Linked DNA regions of Homo sapiens: region 1 is linked to region 2. The links come from fine-mapping of genetic effects on gene expression. Tissue or cell type: whole blood. Region 2 holds a variant in brackets; the other region holds the start of a gene. All regions are shown on one strand. Distances are from middle to middle.

Region 1 (8,285 bases), 24 kb after region 2:
ATCGAAAAAACACAGACTCGATTGTGACAGAAATACCGCCACAAACGCAGGTACAGGGACAGCCGACACCGAGAACCAAGGGAAGCGGCTGAGAGCTGCGCCTCCACGGAATAACTGCCAGCCGGCACAGTGCGAGTGAGAAACCGGCCACTCCATGAAACGACCAGTACTGCCACGGAAAAGAATCCGACGTCGCCAACAAGCGGTGCTACCAGGAGAAACGCCTGCTTTTGAAGAAAACAGCCAGGAACGCGACTGAAAGACACTTGCTCCCAGGAAGAATTGGCATTTGTTCCAAAACACAGCTGGATAAACCGAGAACCTTCGGAGTGGTTGCACCGAAACGGGGTCACCCAGCACCTCAGCGTCCTGGGCTCTAGCAAGCCTCACAGAAGCAACCGGCAGTGCTAACACCGAGGAGCACCTAGAGCGGCAAAACTAGCAGTAATGCCATCGACGAAAGGCCAGTTAGGCCAAAAGAATAGAATATTTAGTTCCGGGAATTACAGGCCAGCGCAAACCAGACAGCATAAAGCTGAGGGTCAGCAAAACAAAAATTAGGAACAATTTTTTTTTAAAGGGCAAGTTAGCTGAAAAACACACGCACACACAATAAAAACAATACATTTGGGAAGATTCATCAAATGAAAATTCAAAACTAAGCAAAACATGGAAAAATGGACTCTACAAAGAAGAAAATGCAAACACTTCTAAACAATGTGGTTTCACAGAGGTAATATCGCTGTCAGGCCTATATCAGTATCTGCTCGGTCTCACCAGGACTTCTAACTAAGGGACTGCAGACACTGCTAAACCGCTACTTGCTACTCCTAAAATATCTTCTTCACCTACGTGCCCGGACTTCTATATTTAAAACTCAGGCATAAGTAAAGCAGGGTAAGTTATTATGAAACCGAAAGTTACTGGGACTAAGGAGTCGCAGGCATGGCTATGCTAGTACTGGTTGCGACCAAATATGGACTTGCAAGAGCTAAGAAATCACATTCACAGGGGCACTTAAAATCGAAGCATGCACTTGTTACTCTAAGAAATCCCTAACCCAGGACTCGCTCAGAATATTTCGAACGCAGAATTAAGCATCTTTATCGCAGGCGAAATAAGCCGATACTTATTCCGCTTAAGTCCGAACTTGCTATGCAGAGAAACCACAATCAGGGCTACATTCCGAGTGTAGGAGGTTTAAAACTCCCGAAAAGGCAGTCAAAGCAGGCAGGGCCAAGCCGGACCTGCTGTGCCTACCCGAATTGCTAAACCCAGTTGTGGTACCATTAAGTAACTGGTAGTTCTCTTATAAGCCAAGCTAAACTGTTCCAAAGAAAAAGACGCTGGAAACACTGCTAGCCCTGAGACCCATGAATAAGTAGTCTTTTCAATTATTTATTTATTTTGAGACAGGCTCTCGCTCTGCTGGAGGGCGTTGGTGCTATCCGGCTCACCGCAGCCTCGACCTCCTGAGCTCAAGCAACCCGCCCACCCCAGCCTCCGGAGCAGCTGGGACTACAGGTGCACACCATCTCACAGGGCTAACTTTTGCATTTTTTGTAGACACAGGCCTCACCCTGTCGCCCAGGCTTTTCTCAAACTCCTGAGCTCAAGCAATCCGCATGCCTCCGCTGCTGAAAGTGCTGGGATTACTGCCGTGAGCCACGCTGCCCCGCCAGAATAAGTAATCTTAAGAACTGGTCATCTGTGAAGTTGTATTAATATAAGTAATTGCGTGGTCCTTCCACGAGAAATAGCAAAGATTGATAAACCTCTCAGTCTTATGATCGTGAATAAAATTCCTGAGTGTAAAACAATGAATCGATATACTGAAAAAAAGAAAGACCGCTGTTAAAAATAAAATTAACAATTAAAATTAAAAAGACGTTATAATAACGTAAAAGACATGATATAAAATTAAATGTAAACAAACAATACATTTAAAAAGCAATAATTAGAAAAATAGTAGGAATAAGATTTTAAAATACAATGGAAAAAAACAAATTTTAAATTTGCCAAAAACTCTAAGAATTCTACAATCGTAAAATAGATTTCTCAAAGTGAAAACAGATACGAATGAAATATTTAATGAAATAAATACAAATATTTAAAATACAAGGAAACTGAAAGTAATAAGCGACGCGAAACAAGAAAGAAACATAAGGGAAAAAGAGAATTTAAAAACTGACAACCAGCAATGAAAGCACATCTTAATGTATTTTTATTTTCTAGGTGGAGACGTTTGGTAACTGAGAATCTTTTCAAGGAGGAGAATCCAAAAAGCCTTCTGCTGCTATCTAAGGCTGCTTAGCTCCACAGATCCGTGAACAGCACGCCCAGAGTACAGAGAACGCGGCAAAACCAACGCGAAGAATCCACTCCAGGCAGTCTGAGAAACCCGGGAGGTGGCGCCACGGCTGGAGGGCAGGAGGATGGCGGCGTTCCAAAAGGCACCCGCTGTCACAGACCTCGGTGTCCTGCTGTCTGTCCCAGGGATGGAGAGGACTGCTCCAGGGAAGCTGCTGGAGCCTGAGTCTGTCGGGTTCCTCTGCCTGCCCCACCTCTTCTACGGGTGCCTCTTGCTGCTTCTGTGTCCCCGGCCAACTGAACTCAGTGGGCTTCGCTGTACTTGGTTCCAAGGTGCTCTGGACTCCAGGAGAGAGTCCGTTTTGCCAGTAGACTCCGGGCAGCCGCCAGCAAGGGCTGGAAAGCAGTCCCAAATCACAGCTGTCCAGTGAGTACTCTCCTAGTACTGGATACAAAGGAAGAGGCCACGGCCCACGATCTTCTGAACTCACAATAGGTGGAGGCTGGGGCTCTGGCGCCACCTCTGCGGAATCCCAAGCCCGCTTCACACAGCCAAGAAAATGTTGCTCCATCCCTCAAGCCTCAGACCAACGTTTGCGCTGATCAAGGAGGGAGAGTCTCTGCACTACCATCAGCCTGAGTATTTATGCTCTGCAGAGCCCGTGGGCGGAGGCCAGTCAGATATTAAGAAACTCAGTAGTAACAAATGCACGAAAATTAGTAGACAAATGAAAAACGATAACATTTTAGAGAGTACATAGAACCAAAACGAACCGTAATTCCGACAGAAAAACATGGCGAGAAAAGAAACCGAAATGAAATGACACTAAGCAAATCTTGAAGAGAACTAGCGCTACAGAACGCAGGTATTCAAGAGCGCGCAAGGGCCAAGAACCACCCGTTTCCGGGAAATGAGCGTTGCTGCCACCGGAAAACTGTCTGCTAGGGCTCTGCCCTAACCACCTTGCAAACGAGAAACTGGCGCGTTGAACTTAGCAAGCGCCGGCACCTAGCGGATAGCGCTGGTATTGCCAAACAAATATCCGTTTTGGCGCCGTAAAGGGTGCTGCTAAAGAGAAACAGCATGCTCTTAGAACTAAGAGCGGTGCTTCCACACCTAAACAACCTGTTTGGAGGAATGAACCAACTCTGTTTCAATGTGTTGTACCAGAAAAATGTGTTGCGGCATTTAATGTGTTTTAATCCGTTCAATGTGTTTGATAGGTTTAATATGTTTTAACCCGTTTTAATGGGTTGTGACAGAAAAAGCGCCGGCTAATGGTACCACACAATTACTAGTGCGAACAGCGGCTCGGTGCAATCACCGTTCTGCACGGCAAAACGGGGTTCAGGAAGTTCCTAGGAGATACTAGCGGTTGTAGGAGCGAAAAAGTGACAGCACTGAGAACCTAAGGACCCCGCGAACGGGAAATGTCACGTTGGGTGCAGCAACTGAGAAAACGCCCAGTGGGCGCCACTGGCAAACGTGCTGATACAAAACCGCCAGCTCTGCATAGGAAGCGGAGCCTCCAGACAGAACCCGGAACCTGATACCAGCGAGGCTAAGACCGAGCTCGGCTCCCCGGCTCCTGAGAGAATGAAAGTCAAGAAGCACGAATCTGAGACGCTCAAAATTAGAAGAAAAAAAAAATACATAATTTAAAATAATGAAAGTCTGAAATGCAAGTAAAAATGAAAAACACATCGGTAACATTGTCCTCAGAGCAAGACACAAAAATAATTTTAAGGTAAGCAAAAGTTACAGAGAACCAACCCTACAAAGAAGAAATTACAAATATGGCTAAGCGATGCAATGCCTACCATTAGAATATTTCTGTCAGATCTAAACCCCTGCAGGTTGCTCCTGTCATAATTTCCTACGAGAAAAAAAACAAAAATATCCACGGTTAAACGTGTTTAGCTACGTCTAAAAAATCGTAGTAGCTGGTACATCCCGATTTGGTCTACAAGAGGAAAAAGTCTCGATGGGCAGGACTTGCTATTGTCAAAGGGAGCTTGGTAAAACTGAGACATCGCGATCGCCGGCATTTCCTGACTTCCACGGGAGTTTTAAAAACACACAAGCATAGCTAAGACAGGACTCGATATTGCGAAACCAAACTTGGTATAAGAGCTCCCAACACTGCTAAACTGGTCATCGCTAAACCTTTAAAAAAAAAAAAAAAGCATTCGCTGGTACCCAGATTTCCACAGGAGTTAAACATTTCCTGCGCAGCTAAAGCAAGTCTTACCAGTAGGAAACCGGAACTTGCTAGGACTAAGAAACTTGAGGCTAGGCTGACCCCATGGTTGTTATGATTAGAAATCCGAGGCCACTGGAAACCCGGAGCTGCTGACCAACGAGTCACAGGGTAACTTCGCCTTCGCATGGGGAAACGGGTGAGTTCCTACGGCCTAGATATCGCAGCCAGGGCTAGACCGGTGTTTGTCTTAAGTCAGGACTTGCTTGGGCTGAGAAAATACATTTTGGCTATTCCCCTACTTGGACAGAGGGTGGAAATCCCAGGCACCGCGAAATCGAAACTTGCTAGGACTAAGAAGCCAACGACGCGCGAAACCGTGGGGTCCTGCGACAGAGACGCCGGCGGCGCCGCCACAGGACTGCGTTCTGGAGGCCGAGCCGGAACCCGTGCGGCGGCGCTGGGAAGAGACTGTGCCCCTGCAGCTCCCCTGTCACCGGCTCCAAGGAGCGTCGGGCTCCCCCCGCCCAGCCCTGCAGCACCCATCCGGCAACGCCAGACTCGGCGCAACGGGGGCAGCTGCGACTTTAAATCTCTCAGATCCGCGGCCTGAGGGCTGCCGCCACCGAGAAATGGAGGCACAGAGCTGTGAACAAGAGACCACGGCTCGCCGAAATGGCGGTGCCAGGAGCCTGAAAGGGAATGCAGCCGGCGGGGTTGTCAAGGACAACATTTGTTTTGGCGCAACCAGCGGTGCCGTCACCAAGAAACCGTCGACTCTGAGAAAAAAAGAGAAGTTCGGCTACCGAGAAACTCCGTGCAGCAAGTGCTGTGACAGCAAAACCGCCGGCTTCGCGCCGCTGGCGAAAGAGCCAACGGAAACGCCGGGTGCTGCGACCGCGAAGCCGGCACTAGAGGGCCTCGGATGGAGAAAGCCCCGCACCGAGACGAGGAAACTGTGCACAGCACGACTAGCAGTTGACACAAACAGAAAAGTGTCTCGTCTGCTCTCTGGGAGAAAGCGTGGATCAAAACCAGCAACTCAGTGGAGAGAACCCCGCAGCCACTGAAGAAGTTGCCCACGTGGCGGTGGGGCCAGAGAAACACCGCGATTTCGACGACAGCCGTAGGGATACCACAGAGAAACATGCGCGGCCACAGAAGTACATCCAGCTCCGCGCAATCAGTGGTTCTGCGATCCAGAAACCGCCAGCTGGGCTAGACTAGAAACTTCTAAAAAACTGTCGTCCCATAGCAGCTTTCCTAACCACGACAGACAGTCGCCTTTAGAGAGCACCTAACGGTGCTGAGACCGGCCTGGGCCAGCAAAAGCGCAGAGCGGTGCCAGTGCCAAGAAACGCCCGACTTGGTGAAACCAACCTTGTGACCACCGATTCCACTGGCTTCGCAGGACGCAACGGGCGAAGGCGCGGCGGAGAAACCGCAGGCTCCCTTCACCGATTATGCTGCGGGCTGGGGATGGTGGGGGGCACCCGCGAAATTGTGAAACCAGCGGCGCTGGGACCCAGCGATCAGCTGCCCGTAGCAAATGTCTGTGCAGTTGCAAAAGATAATTTTTGGCCGTGAGAAGGTTGCCGCCAGAGAGCGTCCGATAACGCTGACAAAGGCGTGGCGTTGCCAGTGAGAAACAGCCGGCGCTGGGAAAGGAACGGTGCAGCGACCGACCAACTGCGCGCTCGGTGCCACCAAAGTGCTACTGGCTCTACCCACTCTGTCCCCCACGGGCTTAGGGAAGTCTGATGTCTTTTTCTTTTCTTTTTTCCTCTGTCGCCTAGGCTGGTGCAGTGGTGTCATCTTGGCTCAGTGCAGCCTCGACTTCCTGGGATCCAGCGATCCTCCCGCTTCAGCCTCTAGAGTAGCCGAGACCACAGGTGAGTGCTACCACCCCCGTCTAATTTATATATATTTATATATATAAATATATATATTAAAATATATATTTTATATTTATATATAATATAAATAAATATATAAATATAAATATATATTTTTATATATTATATAAAATATATAAATATATATTTATTTATATATTATATATAATATATATATTATATAATATATATATTATATAATATATATATAATATATAATATATATATTATATATAAAATATATTATATATAATATATATAATATATTATATATTATATATTATATATAATATATATAATATATTATATATAATATATAATATATAATATATTATATATAATATATAAAATATATAAAATATAGTATATAATATATAAAATATATTATATATAATATATAATATATAAGATATATAATATATTATATATAATATATTATATATAATATATTTTATATAGTATATAAAATATAAAATATATATTATATATAAAATATATATTATATATAAAATATATATTATATATAAAATATATATTATATATGAAATATATATATATAAATATATATATATTAGTGACGGCGGTCTCGCTATGTTGCCCAGGCTGGTCTCGAACTCCTGAGCTCAAGCGATTCGCCCGCCTGGGCCTCCCAAAGTGCTGGGATCACAGGCGTGGGCCACCGAGGCCCGCAGGAAGTCTGTATTGTTCTTGCATTCCACCCAGTGCATTACGCAGGGGGAGAGTAGTGGGCTTATGCGCCGAGAACCAAGCAGATCCTGTTGGTCCCAGGAACAAAGTATAAACCATTCTGGTCGCCAACAGCTTCCTACGCAGGAAACAGCCATCCACCCTCTGTGACTGGGCTTTTCCAGGTCACCCCTCGCTGCCAGGCTCTCTTCCCGGTCCAGAGCCCACAGGATCCTACAGGAGGGGCCAACAACTGCTTGCCTTTGAAACTTGAAACTCTCGGTCTAAGGTTCCTTAGGAGCGTAAAAGGCACAGCGTTTTCTGATCGCAGCTTCAGGTCTCCCGCCCCTGTCCCGGTACCTCTCCTGCAGGACGGAACTCTGTGGGAACGCTCGTTGATTCTGATGGTTAACTGTCAGATATCCTTGATATTGGACATAGGATTTGGAAGAGGGCAGGAGAGAAAAATGAACTGCAAGACTCCAGCACAAGAGGTGGGATTGCTGGCAGATGTCTGCTCCCTCTCCAAACCTAATGAACATCTCAAAGTGCCATCCACTTTCCTATACCCTTGATCTGTGAAATGGATCACTGACGCTTTCTCTGTCTTTCCGGAAATGCAAAACAGGTGAATTTTCAAGCGCTTGAATTGTCTCTCACACTTTTCAGTCAAGAGTGGGGCTATAAACTCCTTCCTCATAGGAAATAAGGAACTGCCACTGCTTGGAAGTAAAACGTATTTTTCCCATAAGCTTTCACATTTCCCAAAAAAAATTATACATCCAGATGTAATCCCCCTAAGAGGCTTACAGACCCTACCAGGAGCGTTCCCACGCGAACGCATCATCTCCCAATCGGATCCTGAAAACACCATGCAACCAATTCCATCCTTTTCTGGATCAACCTGGGCAGAGGACAGGTGCAGAGGAGCCCAGAGAAGGGCCTTGACAAGTCAGGAGACCCAATTTGGGGTCGCAATTGTCACTCACTCCCCAGGCGTTTGCTTTGATCTTCCCCTCCCACCATACTACTTCTTCTGCTACCTGGTTTCTCCCTGGTATTTGAGGATCCTCCAATTGCCTTCTGGTCTTACAGACGGGAGAATAAAGGAAAAATGGCATCGTTTCCACCTTAAAAGTTACAAGCACTTCACCAGATGGTACAGCCTAGGTAGAGCCTTTGTAAAACAAAT
Region 2 (8,335 bases):
TCACGCCATTCTCCTGCCTCAGCCTCCCGAGTAGCTAGGACTACAGGTGCCCACCACAACGCCCGGCTAATTTTTTGTATTTTTAGTAGAGATGGGGTTTCACCATGTTAGCCAGGATGGTCTCGATCTCCTGACCTCGTGATCCACCCACTTCGGCCTTCCAAAGTGCTGGGATTACAGGCGTGAGCCACCACGCCCAGCCTTAAATACATTTTTTCAAAAGTAGGGATTAGAGGATAGCAGTTAGGTTCTAATGAGAGAAAAGAGATTGAAAATGTGAACGGGGTTTCCAAATGCTGCTCCACTTATTTTTTAGATATCAGACTCTGCAATCCCCTTCCTACATTTATCCCTGCATGGCAATTTTTACCAAGTGCTTCAATAATATAATCCAACTTACAAATATTTATAATATTCACCTGAATTCAATATTGTGAACTTAAGAGCCATATGTCTTCAATAACCCCTTAACAGCCATCTGATTATGATTCAAATCCAGGAATTCTAATTCATTCTGGAAGCAGATACCTCTCAGATCCACTCTGAGTATACTCAAGTCCCCCACAGCTTTACTCTAAAGGAGGCAAAAGTTACAGCTGAACTAGAAACATCTGAGCCATTCCAGATTCTTCAGCCTAGCAAGGTTAAAGTCAGACCTTGAAAACAATTGAGTTCACTGGGGTCCAGTATCTGGACCTTTTATGCCATATATTCGTATATCCACTTTCCTATTTTGAAATACAAAGCAGCACCAAATTCATACAAATCTTTTCTTTCCCCACCTTCAGACAGAGTCTCCCTCTGTGGACCAGGCAGGAGTGCAGTGCCACAAACAGGGCTCACTGCAGTCTCAACATCCTGGACTTAAACAATCCTCTCACCTCAGCCTCCACAGTAGCTGGCAGCAAGGTGCATGCCACCACCTTGGGTTAATATTTTTTATTTTTTTGTAGAGATGGGGTCTCCCCATGTTGCCCAGGGTGGTCTCAGACTCCTGAGCTCAAGCAGTCCTCAACTTCAGCCTCCCAAAGTGCTGGGATTACAGACCTGAGCCACCATGCCCAAATTCACACAAACCTATGCCCCCAGCTCAGACTCTGGTGCTGCAGGCCTGTATTCTTTCTTATTTACTGAATGGCTCTTTTGAAAGCCCCCAGACAATTCTAAATCCAGTCTTACTCAACTTGAAGATTCCTTATCTTGGCTAATGACAGCAAAAATAAATAAATAAATAAAATAAATAAATAAATAAATATATATAGTTTAGCAAAATTCACAAATTTTATCTTAGAATAAATTTTATCTTTTCTTGCTTCCTTTCTTCCTCTTCTGCCTTTTTTCCTTCCTTCTTCCTTAACCATAACTCTAACTCTAAATCTAACCAGGTGACTGAATCCTTCATGGCATATTACTTGTCACCCTCTACATCAGCATCCCCCCTTCCCAGGAGAAATTGCATCTTCCCTTTCACTTTCCTTAGCAGAGGATTCCTGGTAACTCCATACAGAAAGATTCTCCTGGTGTTCTTCAGACTTGAGGAAAAGCAGATTCCTCTCACAAGGGTGCTTGTTGGTTCAAATTAGCATCATGACGTTCACGAATTCCATTATACTGTTAAATCAGAATTCTGCTTTCAGAAGACCAAATTCACAATATCCTGAAGCACCACTGATTTCCTCCTACAGGAAAGACAAACACACACACATAATTGTTAGTCAAGAGTTTATCGGTCACCAAAATTGGGTAAACTTTTGGAACTTGTCAGTGAATACAGCCCCAAATTACTACAGCAAATGGAACCAGGAAGAAGAAATTCTGTGGAGGAACTAGGAGGAAGAACATGTGTGGAGGTGCATTGGAGTGGTAGTCACAGGGCTCCCCTGCACCTTGCAGGGTCTAGTGGATCCTGCGGTTTATAATCTATCAAACATTTGTAGAGAGTGTTTTACAAAACAAACAGACAAAACAAACAAAAAAACAGACACAAAACCCTCTAAGTTACAGGTAAGCTTAGGACAGGCAGGAAATTGGGAGGGTGAATCTTCAATCCCAGAGACCAACAGCAAATGGTTCATTTTTTGTAGGTGAACCAGAGGCATGGTGGAGCCCTCCGTTGGCACCAAGCAGAATTCTTCACTTTCTTACTCTAGATTACTTACCCTGGGACATTTTTGCCTTTTACTTTCTGTCTAGACTCCTGCATGATCTTTGTTTTTACCTGCTCTACTACAGTTATAACTGTTACCATCTTTTCTGAGCCTAAAATCAAGAACCAATACCTGACAAAGAAGTAGATTGTTAAAACCAAGAGTTTCTCTGTATCAGGAAAGTATTCATATGAATTCCTGCCTCCTAATTTATTAGTTGCCCAGCTTTCTGCAACATACCAACTGACCAGAAGATTCACCTGTACACACCACCTGAGTGTTGGGGACTTTTTCTTTCTTGGCCCTCCCACCTCCCACCGTTTTTCTGTTTTGTGTCACTTTCATTTGGTTAATAATATTCTAACAAGATTTGTCATTATAGTTATCTTAGTTTGATGAGATTTTTCTTCATGAAATTGAACAAAAATATCAGTCTTTGTTAATTCTTTATTATTTATTGTTTCGGATGACACAGCAGGAAGGGAAATAGGAAAGGCTCTACATCATTTGTCGTATGTGCTCCACAATTTGCCCTCAAGTTTGAATCCTAGGTCCTACCACCCACACAAAACTGCCATTGCCAGCCTGCTCAATTCTACCCAATCTCTAGCCATTTTCATACTGCAAAGTTCCTATGACCTCCTCCCAAGGAGCTCAATTCTGTACTTTACCTCTTCCTGACCTCCCTGGAATCCACCCCGCCTCCAACCACACTGTAATTAGAATCTGAATTCTGCAACTACCTTGATGTTAGTCTCTGTAGGGGAGCAGCCTGCAGCCTCCTATGGACTCCCATTAAGACAGGATATTCCTTCCGTCTAGGGGGTGCTGATTGCAACTTTTTTGCTAAGATGAAAAGCTGGAGTCGAAATGAGAAGAGAGGAGTTGTGGCAGGTATTTTGTTTTGCAATGGCTCCAGACTGCTCTTCCGTTTGATAAAGTGGCTGTAACTATGTGGGTGGGAACAGTGCAGTTTTTTCTTTATTCTCCCACCCACAAAACCAGGAGGAAATTGGAAGGGCCTCAAATACCAGGGAATGTTTTGGCTAGCTGAAGACGGGGTAAGGTGGGAAGGAGATATTGAGGCAAACATCTTGGGAGAGGGTGAGAATTACAAGGCCAAAATGGATTTCCTTACCAGGCAGGCATATCTCTGCCTTTGTCCTGGCATGGCCTCTACCTAGGATGCCCCAGGGAAAGGATAGTTTGGTTTGCACAGGAGCAGCAGTGATGAAAATCGGAAATGATGAGTGTGGTTGGAGATATTTGTGGCAGGGTTTGTAGGTCTCTTTGAGGGGGCTCAACTCACAAAGTGCAGATTTTTATTAAAATATAAATGCTTGTGGGAAAGGACATTTTCCTACTGAGCAGTGGCAGTCCCATATTTCTTCTCAGATTTAAAAAAAAAAAGGCCTCAGTCTGAAAAGTGAGGAGATGGAGGATTTGAGCACTTACAAGTTCACCTGCATTGCATTTCCCAGAAGATAGAAATCAATGATGCATTTTGAAGATCATGCTGCTAGAGACAGAGAACCACAACTTGAGCTTTTCTCTGGGCTTAGAGAGGAGGTGTATGTCTCGCTGTCAATTCTACATCCAACGCTGGAATCTTTCAGCCCATTTTCCTCCCCGGCTGTTTTTGAACTACTATCCCCAAATATCGAGGATATCTGACAGAGTGAACCATCAGAATAAGGAGCGATTGCCACAGAGTTCCATCCAGTAGGGGAGGGACTTGATGTGCGGGGCAAGCCTGATGCCCGGGTCAGGCGACTGTGCCTTTCATTCTCCACGGAGATCTTGAACCTAGAGTTTCCAAGTTCCGAAGAGATGCGGTTGTCGACAGCTCTCCTAGAATCTCTGATGGCTCTGAACGGGGACAAAGGTCTAGGGCAGAGGGATGGTGTGGAAGGACCCAGCCACGGCCATTGGAAGAGCAGTTTCCTGCAATGTAATGCTGTTTGCGACCAGCATAAGCTTTAGCTCTCTCCCAGGACGAGCCACATCCGCCCCATTCACGGTCCTTATTCCAGCTCCTTTCCCTCTGCGAATCACACTGGGTGGGTCGCTGGGGGCCTCGGTAATTACGGATTATGGCACAGCCAAGAAAAATACAGGTTTTCTTAAGCCTGAAGCCACTGACTTGAGGGGGGAGAGTAGGAGTAATGCCAGCAGCAGTTTTGTATTTGGTTTTTGTTTTTATATTCTAGTCTCTAGGCCACAAGACAATGTTGCACCCAGTGCCAGTCGATCCGTCACGGCGCCGCAAACTTTCCCTGAACGGAGGGTTTGTGGCTGACATCTCTAGTTTCTCAGAGCCTGGGAGTGATCACTGGCTGCACCGCTGATGGCGCCCAAAAGAACGCGCATTTGTCTTTGGCAACAGCGCTGGGTTTCGCCTCGTGCCCGCGCCTGAAGGGTCCTAGCGCCGCCAGATTCTCACACTCGCGGGTCCAGCGCCCAGCGCTGCTCCTCCCACCAGTCATCGGTTTCTCACACGCACTTCATTGGCAGCACTGGCGAGTCAGTTTTCCGGTGGCGGCGGCGCTAGTTGGTCTGCACGAAACGTTTCCCTTCTCGCTCCGTGTGTCCCATTCTCCATCCCACGTCCTCCAGTGCCGGGGTCA[T/C]GGTCGCAGCACCCGGCGTTCCCGTTGGCTCTTTTGCCGCTGCGCGGAGCCGGCGGTTTTTCTGTCACAGCACTTGTACGGAGTTTCTCGGCGGCCGAACGTCTCTTTTTTTCTCAGAGACGACGGTTTCTTGGTGACAGTACCGTTGGTTGCGCCGTAACGAATGTTCTCCTTGACAGCCCCACCAGCTGGCGTCACTCGCAGGCTCCAGACGCCGCCATTTCGCCAAGCCGAGGTCTCTTGGTTGCGGCACTGCTTCTGGCTCGGTGCCTGTATTTTCTCGGTGCCTACAGCGCCCAGGTCGCCGATCTGAGGGCTTCGGAGTACCGGCCGGGCGCGGTGGCTCACGCCTGTAATCCCAGCACTTTGGGAGGCCGAGGCGGGCGGATCAGGAGGTCAGGAGATCGAGACCATCCTGGCTAACACGGTGAAACCCCGTCTCTACTAAAAATACAAAAAAATTAGCCGGGCGTGGTGGCGGGTCCCTGTAGTCCCAGCTCCTCGGGAGGCTGAGGCAGGAGAATGGCGTGAATCCGGGAGGCGGAGCTTGCAGTGAGCCGAGATCGCGCCACTGCACTCCAGCTTGGGCGACAGAGCGAGACTCCAACTCAAAAAAAAAAAAAAAAAAAAAAAGAAAAGAAAAAGAAATCTGGGTACCCGCGAATGCGATTTTTTTTAGGTTTACCGATGATCAGTTTAGCAGTGCCTGGGAGCTCTTATACCAAGTTTGTTTTCGCAATATTGAGTCCCACCTTAGCTAAGCTTGTGTGTATTTTAAACTCCCATGGAAGTCAGGAAATGTCCGCAAACGCGATTTCTGGTTACCAAGCTCCGTTTGGCAATAGCAAGTCCTGCCGAACGCGACTTTTTCCTCTTGTGGACCAAGTCTGAATAGACCAGCTACTGCGATTTTTAAGTCGTAGTAAAAAAGGTTTAACCGTGACTGCTTTTTTTTGTTGGTGTTGTTTGTTTTTGTTTTTGTTTTCGTAGGAAATGTAGACTTAGGTGTAACATGTACCGGTTTAGATCTGACAGAGATATCACAATTGTAGGATTGCATCTTTTAGCAAGGTTTGTAATTTCTTCTTTCTAGGATTGGTTCTCTGTAATTTTTGCTTATTTTTAAATTCTCTCTTTGTCTTTTGCTCTGAGAACGATGTTACCGATGTGTTTGCTTTCCATGTTTACTTGCATTTTAGCCTTTATTTTTTTAATTTTGATTTTATTTAAATGTTATGTATTTTTTTTCTACTAATTTTGAGCGTCTCAGCTTCCTGCTTCTTTACTTACATTCTCTCAGGATCCGGGGAGCCGAGCTCGGTCTCAGTCTCCCTGCTGTCAGGTGCCAGGTTGTGTCTGGTGGCTCTCCTTCGTATGCGGAGCTGATGGTTTTGCATCAGCGCTTTTGCCAGTAGAGCCGACTAGCGTTTTCTCAGTTACGGCACCGTTCTTAGCGCCCAGTGTGACGTTTCCCATTCGCCAGGTCCTTATGTTCTCTGTGCTGTCACTTTCTTGGTTCTCGCACCGCTAGTATCTGCTAAAGAACTTCCTAAACCATGTTTTACTGTGCAGAACGGTGATTGCACGGAGCCGCTGTACGCACTAGTAATTTCATAGCACCGTTAGCTGGCGCTTTTTCTGTCACAACACATTAAAACGGGTTAAAATACTGCAAGCGGATTAAACACATTAAGAGGATTAAAACATTAAAATGTCTCAACACATTTTTCTGACACAACACATTTAAACGGAGTGGGTTCATTCCTCCGAAGAGGATGTTTAGGCGTGGAAGCACCGCTGTTTCCCAAGAGCACGGTTTCTCTCTGGCAGCACCACTTATGGCACCAAAACAGGTATTTTTTGGCAACACCAGCACTATTCGCTAGGTGCCGGCGCTTGCTGAGTCCCAGCGCCGCCAGTTTCTCTTTCGGTCGTTAAGTAGCTCAGAGCCCTAGCGGACAGTTTTCAGGTGGCAGTAATGCTCATTTCCTGGAACAGATGGTTCGTGGCCCTTGAAGCGCTGCGATCTGTAAAGCTAGTTCTCTGCAAGGTTTGCTTAGTGTCTGTTTTATTTCGGTTTCTTTTCTTGCTATGTTTATCTGTCGGAATTACAGTTTGTTTTGGTTCTATGTAATCTCTAAAATGTTATCGTTTTTCTTTTGACTACTAATTTTTGTGCATTCATTACTATTGAGTTTCATAATACCTGGCTTGCCTCCGCCCACGGCCTCCGGAAAGCATAAATGTCCAGGCTAATGGGAGTGCTGAAGGCTCTGCCTCGTTGATCAGCACAAACGCTTGTGTCCTGCTCTAAGGCTTAAGCGATGGAGCAACGTTTTCTTGGCTGTGCGAAGGGGGCTTGGGATTCCGCAGAGGTGGCGCCAAAGCCCCAGCCTCCACCTGCTCTGGGTTCAGAAGGTTGTGGGCGGTGGCCTCTCCCTTTTTATCCAGTACTGGGAGAGTACTCATTGGACAGCTGTAATTTGGGACTGCTTTCCAGCCCTTGTTAGTGGCTTCAATTAAATACTTTATCAGAAAAATAGAAACTTTAAGCCCAAATGATTTTTCAGGTTCACTTGATTTAAGTAAATCTTTGACAAATAAGCTGCATTTAAAATTATCAGTAAAATAAAATTAGAAATGTCTTCAGAATTGTCAATATACATTATTGTTTAGATTTATTGGTCAGCGGTTTCTGATTTATCTCTGCTAGATATTATAAGGCGTGAAAATTTGGCATGAAGGTTATAAATCTATAAATGCAACCCCAAACAGAATTATCTTTGTTCATGTAATTTTGGTAAATAAGGCATTTAATATCATTGGTTTAAAGAAAACAGCTAAATCTTGGGTTACTGACAGAAGAGAAAAATCCATTTATTTAACCTTAAGGTTCTTACTTAGGTAAACACCTGATATTCACAGTCTATAATAATGGTTGACAGGGACATAACTGTAACTGGCCCATATGTTCATTTTGCCTGTTGCCCAGATAGAGTTGATTTGTCAAGACAGCGAATTGCAATAAAGAGTTTAATATGGGCAGAGTTGGCTAAATTGGAGACCTGAATTTTATTATTACTCAAATCAGCCTCCCAGAAAATTCAGAAGCCAAGGTTTTTCAAGGATAGTTTGGCAGAAGGGTGCTGCTGCTCAGCTGAGGAACAATCACAGGGGTGTGGAAAACAGTCCTCCTGCACTCAGTCCATTTCTTGAGTGGCGGCCACAGAGGAGTGGCTGATGCTGTTGGGGCCATCAAAGTCTGAAAAGTCATCTCAAAAAGCCAAACCTAGGTTCTAGTAATTAGGGAAGTTGCAAATCTTGTGACCTCTGGAATAAAGGCTGGTAATCCTTTAACTATGCCCACATCTTAGCAGAAATCAGGCCCTTCTCATCCTCCTAACCTGGTGGGCTTTCATCAGCTTTACAAAGATGGTTTAGTTTTGGGAAGGGCTATTATCATATAAACTATAAACTAAATTTCTCCCTAAGTTAGGTTGGCCCATGCCCAGATCAAGGGCTGTTTGGAGGTTAAAGGCAAGATGGAGTTCGTTAGGTCAG

What was found.
Region 1: it holds the start of ANXA2R, and the variant in region 2 is fine-mapped to the expression of ANXA2R in whole blood (TOPMed, PIP above 0.99).

Annotation. Positions count from the first base shown.
Region 1 is chr5:43,037,165-43,045,449 of GRCh38, forward strand. It overlaps ANXA2R (annexin A2 receptor), which reads right to left and starts at 3,155. Exons shown (of 1, transcript NM_001014279.3): 1 at 2,207-3,155. The coding sequence starts at 2,882. The coding sequence ends at 2,301. All of the region lies in intron 2 of ANXA2R-OT1 (ANXA2R overlapping transcript 1), which reads right to left. It overlaps ANXA2R-AS1 (ANXA2R antisense RNA 1), which reads left to right and starts at 4,970. Exons shown (of 2, transcript NR_015447.1): 1 at 4,970-6,403; 2 at 7,279-8,104. RefSeq lists enhancers at 2,037-2,577, 2,269-2,318, 2,339-2,748, 2,759-2,808, 4,464-4,543 and 7 more and a silencer at 3,149-3,418.
Region 2 is chr5:43,013,472-43,021,806 of GRCh38, forward strand. ANXA2R-OT1 (ANXA2R overlapping transcript 1) reads right to left here. Exons shown (of 3, transcript NR_104651.1): 3 at 1,258-1,679. LOC105374748 (a long non-coding RNA gene) reads left to right here and starts at 4,674. Exons shown (of 3, transcript NR_188279.1): 1 at 4,674-5,201; 2 at 5,765-5,845. RefSeq lists enhancers at 2,167-2,216, 4,003-4,242, 4,641-5,163, 4,703-4,842, 6,910-6,959. The variant T/C (reference allele first, on the strand shown) is at 4,775.